Linked DNA regions of Homo sapiens. The protein of the gene in region 1 interacts with the protein of each later gene in a biochemical or structural test. Each region holds a gene or a part of one and is shown on either strand. Other genes may lie near its edges.

Region 1 (3,920 bases):
CATCCATCCCTCTATCTGGAAGGGAAGCAGAGTAACTTCTTTGAATGGGCTTTCTGCTGTCTCACATTTCACCCTCTTGCAGTACAAACTACTTTTACATCCCTTAAAATAACACGCACCCACCCTTCCCTCTGGAACGCTCATTCTTTTCTAGCCCAACTGACTGACTGCTGCTCATTCTCTAGTTCCACATTTGCCTCCTCTGAGAAGTTCCCCCTGATCTACCGTTGTGGACACTGGTGCTCCTCTGTGAGAGTTCTGCTGCTTTCTGGACAGTCTGTCTTTAAGCACCCGTTTGTGATTGTTTCCACATCTAAGACCTCTCCGGGCTAAAAGCACCTTGAAAGCAAGGAGCAAACCTAATGGTGTTTGTATATTTACTGCATACTGCCTGACACAGTAAACATGACCAATGAGTTAATCAGTAAGGAATAAATGAATTAAGTCACTAATAATTCTTTTACATACATTCGATTTCTTTGTTCTAATTATCCCTTAATCTCCAACTATTATTCTTGCATCAGGAAATCAAACACAAATATTTTTCTGCCTTTTACAAAAGCAAAAGGCTCAAATGGAGCAAGAAATAGAAAAAAAAGGAACTAAATTTGAGAGGGGGGATAAAGTTAAAACCAAAACAACCAACCAAACAGAAACCTAAACATGAGAGACTTTCATTACATCATTGTTATCTAAATATTGGTGAGTGGACTATTGTGTCAAGGTTGAAACTGAAAACAGTTGCAGCATGGATTCCACAGATGGGTGCACAGGAAGGGAGGGACCTATGGAGCCAGGAGGATATGGATTATGGATGAAGGTTTTCACGGACTGGGTGGGATACTGTGTCCTAGTGCACCTTGCATCTCTGACTGTAATACTGCACATTAGTCAGCAGAGGGTAGCCACAAATATTGCATGCATTTCTCCTCCCCACTTAATGTTTTCTTCATTTTTCAGATAAATATAAAATTGGCAATTCTTGTCCCCAGAGGTAGAATATAGAAGGTTGTGGGTGTAGTAATTCCTTAGTAACTTGCGGGGAATTTTTTGTATGTTTCAATGTAATGTTCGAAGCTAGGGAACATGGGCGGTGGGTTGGAAAAATGATTGTGTAGTTAGAACTAACTTTAAAGAAGCCGTGTTCTATGCCAAATGCTGTGCTAAGTGACTCACATGCATTAGTATATTTAATCATCTCAAAAAGTCTTAGGATATACTATTTTATCAGTCCAAATTTCTAGGCAAAAGAACTAAACATTAGATAATTTAAGTAACTTGCAACACTTGGAATTAAAGCGACACTTATTCTAATTCACAATGTTATATAAGCTCCCTCGGCAGAACAGTCCCAGTTTTTACCCTAATGCCGTGCTGAGCTTGATCTGAGGTACTATGGGACCTGAGTTGGCTTTAGTCAATGAGAGGGTCTTAGGGAAAGAGTGAAAGCAGAACAAAATGAAAAGGAAATGACACTGTAGAGATGACTGTTCCTAAAACATAGTTTTCAAAACCATATTTACTAGCCTAAAGGAAAATATGTTATAATTAGGCATTTATGGAGTTTTTATAAGTTACCACAGGTTTCCTTACATTTTTTTTCCCTAATATCCGTAACTGCAAATCTTAGGCATTTACTTAAATTGCCTCATCACAGCCTCCCTGTGAACAAATGAGGAAAGTATGTGTACAATAGTAAAATCCTATTTGGCTGCCATGTGAACTTCACCACATCTCTTTAAAACTTTGGTTATGATTAGCATTGACTGGGAGGTAAATGTTAGCAGATTTGTAAAGAACAAAATCAAGATATTTTTAGTTCACTTTGGCAAATATTTTTAAATGTTTACTATATTGCCAAGCATTGTGCTAGGCACAGGGGTTAAAAAGTATTTAAGACTAAATTCCTACCATCAAAAAGTTCTCATATCCAAGTAGAAAAACAGAAACATAAGTCAATGACCATAATGCAATATGATGAACCCTGTCTTAAAAGCATGGGTAAAGTGCTAAGGTGACTGGGAAAGGGTAGCTTTTTGGGTCTCCCAATATTCAACAACTTGTCCTATGGATTAATATTTAAGATTTGCCTGGTGCTTTTCTAGTATAGAATTGTGATAAAGTGATGGATAGATTAGAAGGTTAGTTTTAAAACTGAGCGTGAAAATAGTTGCATCCCGTGATGGAGGAGTACCCAGAATTCTGACCATATCTACTCACTAAAATACTGAAGATACAAAGAAGCAGTAAATTCTGCTGTAGTTTGTTGTTTGGCAATTAGTACTCATTTATCAAGGCTTACTGCACATAAGATAGTCTGACAGCCATAGAGAACAATGGATAAGGAGTTGGAAACAAAAATTTTATAGAGAAATAAATAATCAAGTGGAATGATTTAATTTTATAGCTGGAAATAGCTCAAAAAACATCTAAAATGATGGATAACGTCATCATTTTACAGATGAGGGAACTGAGGTCTGGCAGTAAAAAGTGGTCATTTTACTTCTCAAAAGAAGATATTTATGCAGCCAAAAAACACATGAAAAAATGCTCATCATCACTGGCCATCAGAGAAATGCAAATCAAAACCACAGTGAGATACCATCTCACACCAGTTAGAATGGCGATCATCAAAAAGTCAGGAAACAACAGGTGCTGGAGAGGATGTGGAGAAATAGGAACACTTTTACACTGTTGGTGAGACTGTAAACTAGTTCAACCATTGTGGAAGTCAGTGTGGCGATTCCTCAGGGATCTAGAACTAGAAATACCATTTGACCCAGCCATCCTATTACTGGGTATATACCCAAAGGATTATAAATCATGCTGCTATAAAGACACATGCACACATATGTTTATTGTGGCACTATTCACAATAGCAAAGACTTGGAACCAACCCAAATGTCCAACAATGATAGACTGGATTAAGAAAATGTGGCACATATACACCATGGAATACTATGCAGCCATAAAAAATGATGAGTTCATGTCCTTTGTAGGGACCTGGATGAAGCTGGAAACCATCATTCTCAGCAAACTATTGCAAGGACAAAAAACCAAACAGCACATGTTCTCACTCATAGGTGGGAATTGAACAATGAGAACACATGGACACAGGAAGAGGAACATCACACACCAGGGACTGTTGTGGGGTAGGGGGAGGGGGGAGGGATAGCATTGGGAGATATACCTAATGCTAAATGACGAGTTGATGGGTGCAGCACACCAACATGGTACATGTATACATATGTAACAAACCTGCATGTTGTGCACAGGTACCCTAAAACTTAAAGTATAATAATAATAAAAAAAAGTGATCATTTTTTCCAAATGTCATATATCTAACAATAGTGAAGACCAGAGCCCTCAGAAGACTAGTAGGCAATGCATGCAGAGTTCTACCTGGGAACTCTAGCATCAGACAGCTTGGGCTCACATCTGTCTCCACCAAATACTGGCTGGGTTATCTTAAGTTATTTAAACTCCTGTCATTCCGTGACCTCATCTGCAAAATGGAAATAGTACTATAGTGTCTGCAGATATAAAATGAGAGAACACATATAAAACAATAATGAGGATTAAAATGTAGTGCAAATTAATGAAGGACATACTAAGAGCTTGATAAATGCTATTTATTAGAACTTATATATCCTAATTTCTGCATTAGTATTCTTTCTGCCACAAGAAAAATAAAAGTGAAATGGGATTTTGTTCATTTTTGTTTCTCTGACACAGGAAGAAATCTCTTCTTAAAATCTGTATGCACATGTGGTGTCCTCATTTCCCCTTGTGTCTCTTCTTTCAGGGCCAAGGAGATTAAGATCAAGTTGGGAATTCTCCTCCAGAAGCCAGACTCAGTTGGTGACCTTGTCATTCCGTACAATGAGAAGCCAGAGAAACCAGCCAAGACCCAGAAGTGA
Region 2 (3,920 bases), on another chromosome or scaffold:
TGTGCCCAGGACGACGCCAGGCAGCTATTTGCACTGTCCTGCACCGCCGAGGAGCAAGGCGTGCTCCCTGATGACCTGTCCGGCGTCATCCGGAGGCTCTGGGCTGACCATGGTGTGCAGGCCTGCTTTGGCCGCTCAAGGGAATACCAGCTCAACGACTCAGCTGCCTAGTGAGTGCTCTGAGGGGCTGGGCAGGGCAGGGCAGGGGCTGGGGGAGGACTAAAGGCTGGACCGGAGGGCCTGAGAACCCCCAGAAGGACACTGCTGGTCTTTGCTTATGAAACCGATGACTGTTAACCAAGGCCTTCCTGTTTTTTGGTTTGGGGGGTGGGTGGGTGTCACGTTACTGAAAGGCCAGGAGGAATGACAGGCAGGTGGCTTATACAGTACATCTCTTCCAGGCCAGTTGAGTCTGATCTGTCTTGACAGTCTTCTAAAGAACATTTGCGGCCGGGCGTGGTGGCTCACGCCTGTAATCCCAGCACTTTGGGAGGCTGAGACAGGCGGGTCGTGAGATCAGGAGATCGAGACCATCCTGGCTAACACGGTGAAACCCCGTCTCTACTAAAAATACAAAAAATTAGCCGGGCGTGGTGGAGGGCGCCTGTAGTCCCAGCTACTCAGGAGGCTGAGGCAGGAGAATGGCGTGAACCTGGGAGGTGGAGCTTGCAGTGAGCGGAGATTGCGCCACTGCACTCTAGCTTGGGTGACAGAGCAAGACTCAGAACATTTGCTGCCACCTGTTCTGTGCCAGGCTTCAAGGACACAGTGATGAGTGGAGCAAAGTCCCCATGCAGTGACAATTTAGGGTGTTAGTGAAAAGGTAGAGGTGGAGTTGGCCCAGAGACAGGATTGCTGAGCTCTGAAGGAGAGTCAGCCAGGGGAGGAGTGGATGAGGGGATTCCAGGCAGGGGCATAGCATGTGCAGCATCTCGGGGTGGTGGGGAGCTGGCTGTGCTTGAACATAGGCTGTGGAGGCTGGCTGGAGGGGGCCACAGGGGAGGAAGTTATCTGGGAGGTGACAGGTGTGTGTGTAGGTCAGAGCCCCTGGACCTCAGCTGTGACCCTCGCTGGCCCTAGGCTGAGGAATTACAAGGGGTCCCAGGAATCCCAGAGGCATGACAAGCCTGCACCCTTTCCACAGTTCTGAACTCCTTCCCTGTGGTATCTGTCATGTACTTGGACTGGTGCAGGGTGCTGAGGACCCCACGGGGAACAGGATAGACAGGCTAATAGCCATTGAGGATGGCTGCAGGGGACATCCACAGGCTTTGGATGGTGTCACCAGATAGGCTGCTGTCCCTGTACTCTAGCCTTCCCCTATCTCTGCTTAAGCCAGTCCCCTCTGACTGGAACACCCTTTTGCTCCTATTGTTCATCCAATCCTGAGCCTACCCATAGGGTGGATTTCAGCAAGGGTGGGTGGGAGGAGGAGGAGGGTCTTGCCTGGCTGTGATTCCTGAGCCCTGTCCAAGCCACATGAACAGCCTCCTCCTACCCTTCTTACATGGCCTGAATGCTCTTGTGAATATGTACCCCCTACAGGAGCTGTGGAGTCACAGCCAAATGCTGTGGGGGCCCCCAGGCCTCACCACTGCCCCTCCCTGAGATCTCTGGCCCAGCCACCAGCGAGCTTGGGGTCAGAGCAGCAGGGACCTTGGTGCCCATGATACTCAAAGGAAGCAGGAATAGAGCCACCTCCAGGCCACCTCCTGCTTCTCCATCATCCTCTTTCTCTATTCTCCAGACATTAGGCACCCACTGTGTGCCCAGCACAGTTTTGGGAGTGAATACAGGCCCTGTTCTCCCAGTCAGGTTTAAGCCTTGATAGCTCCCCCTGGGAATGGGTTGCGGATTGGAACACCACAGGAAGCAGGGCTCCTTCAGCCCCTCTTCGCAGCAACCCTCCAAGTGTGCAGCGAGTCAGGGGGTCCCTGGGGCGAACCCACCTGTTGGGGAAAAGGGAGAGGCTGGTGTGGAATGCACCATGGTACCTCCACATTGAGGACTCTGGCAGTAGGGGGCGGGGCATGGTATGCGGGTCACAGCACATGCGTCATCCTTCCCCATGGCCCTTCCTGTTTTTCTGTTTTGTCCCTGCTACTCTGAGATCATTTCCCTCTGGCCTGGTTTGGCCTGGGTGCTGGTGGGAGCCAAGGGCCAGCCCCAGCAGCCTTGCCCCAGGAATGAAAAGTCAGCTCTGGGCAGCAGCCTGGAGGCCTGGGACCAGCCTCCAGGGCATGGCAGGGATATTGAGGCAGGCAGCAGAGGCAGGCCCTGCAGGGGTAGCCTTGATACTAATTAAGGGAACTGGTAATGAGGAGCCCCTGGGACCCCTGCCAAGCAGGTGTCTGTGCCCTCCCCCTGAGGAACCCAGATTTCATTGGGCGCTGGGCAAAGAGCCCACTGGACCTGGCAGGCCCCAACCTGTCCAGCACCACATCGAGGGACCGCACCCGGCTGCTCTGCGGCTAATGCCGTAATTGCGCCCATTAGCATCCTGAATCCTTCACCGAAGGACTAATTTGCCTCCTCCCACCCTCTTTGCCTATAGCTCCAACATCCTGGATCCTGTCCGAGGCAGGTCTGGCTCAGACCCTGGGTGCTGGAGCTTGGCTGGCTAGCTGTCCACAGAGCTGCACCTCCTCCCATTCCCATTCTACAGGTGGGAGGCCGGGGGCTCTGAGTTCAGGTTTCTTCATTTGAGCAATGAGGTAATGCAGGCAGGGGTTAAAGAAACAAGGGCTGTGCCTAGGCCAGGCGCAGTGGCTCACGCCTGTAATCCCAGCACTCTGGGAGGCCGAGGTGGGCGGATCACCTGAGGTTGAGAGGTCAAGACCATCCTGGCCAACATGGTGAAACCCCGTCTCTACTAAAAATACAAAAATTAGCTGGGCGGCAGGCGCCTGTAGTCCCAGCTACTCAGGAGGCTGAGGCAGGAGAATCGCTTGAACCTGGCAGGCAGAGGTTGCAGTGAGCCAAGATCATGCCACTGCACTCCAGCCTGGCAACAGAGTAACACTCTGTCTCAAAAAAAAAAAAAAAAAAAAAAAAAAAAAGCAAGGGCTGTGCTTGAGAAATGGCATGGGAGGGAAGGGGCCTCTTGCAGCTGGCCCAGGGTCCAGCTAAGGAAGCCCCATGCTGGCCCCCACTGACCCTCCCACCCCCCATCCCCAGCTACCTGAACGACCTGGAGCGTATTGCACAGAGTGACTACATCCCCACACAGCAAGATGTGCTACGGACCCGCGTAAAGACCACGGGGATCGTGGAGACACACTTCACCTTCAAGGACCTACACTTCAAGTGAGCGAGCATGTGGACAGGTGGGAGGGGCAGGACCTGCCAGCCTCTGGGGTAGCAGAGGCAGGGGCTGGTCCAGGATCCCCCAGCCCCACTGAGGTTTTACAAGGCTCATGTGTTCTGGGCAAGCACATCCTCACCACCTAGTGAACCAGCAGTCAGGATCCACGCCACCTCTGCCAGCTGCTCACAGCCTCTGCTGCTCCTGCCTGATGTGGCTGCAGCCTGCCTGCTGTCCAAGCTCCTGGCCCAGAACCAGGGGTGAAGTGGGCAAGTGTGGATGATTCCAGAAGGTAGCTGCCCTACTCTGGGCAGGCCTCTGTCCTCAGTCAGCCAACCTGAGAAATGGGGTAGAAAGCCTCCCCCAGGCTCCCTTCCTGGAACTAAGGTGATCTATATCTGCAGGATGTTTGATGTGGGTGGTCAGCGGTCTGAGCGGAAGAAGTGGATCCACTGCTTTGAGGGCGTCACAGCCATCATCTTCTGCGTAGCCTTGAGCGCCTATGACTTGGTGCTAGCTGAGGACGAGGAGATGGTGAGAGGATGAGAGAATGCTGCGGGTGGGGGCAGCGGGCTTGGGGAGTGGTGGCTAGCGTTGACCTTGCTATTCTACCCCC

What was found.
Region 2: the proteins of RGS5 (region 1) and GNAI2 form a complex in vitro, tested with the Homo sapiens proteins (one study listed by BioGRID).

What each region holds. Positions count from the first base shown.
Region 1 is NC_000001.11:163,168,254-163,172,173, reverse strand, and holds part of RGS5 (regulator of G-protein signaling 5), read left to right. Parts: intron 1-3,805; coding exon 3,806-3,916; intron 3,917-3,920.
Region 2 is NC_000003.12:50,253,015-50,256,934, forward strand, and holds part of GNAI2 (guanine nucleotide-binding protein G(i) subunit alpha-2), read left to right. Parts: intron 1-9; coding exon 10-170; intron 171-3,177; coding exon 3,178-3,306; intron 3,307-3,708; coding exon 3,709-3,838; intron 3,839-3,920. UniProt on the Homo sapiens protein: Guanine nucleotide-binding proteins (G proteins) are involved as modulators or transducers in various transmembrane signaling systems.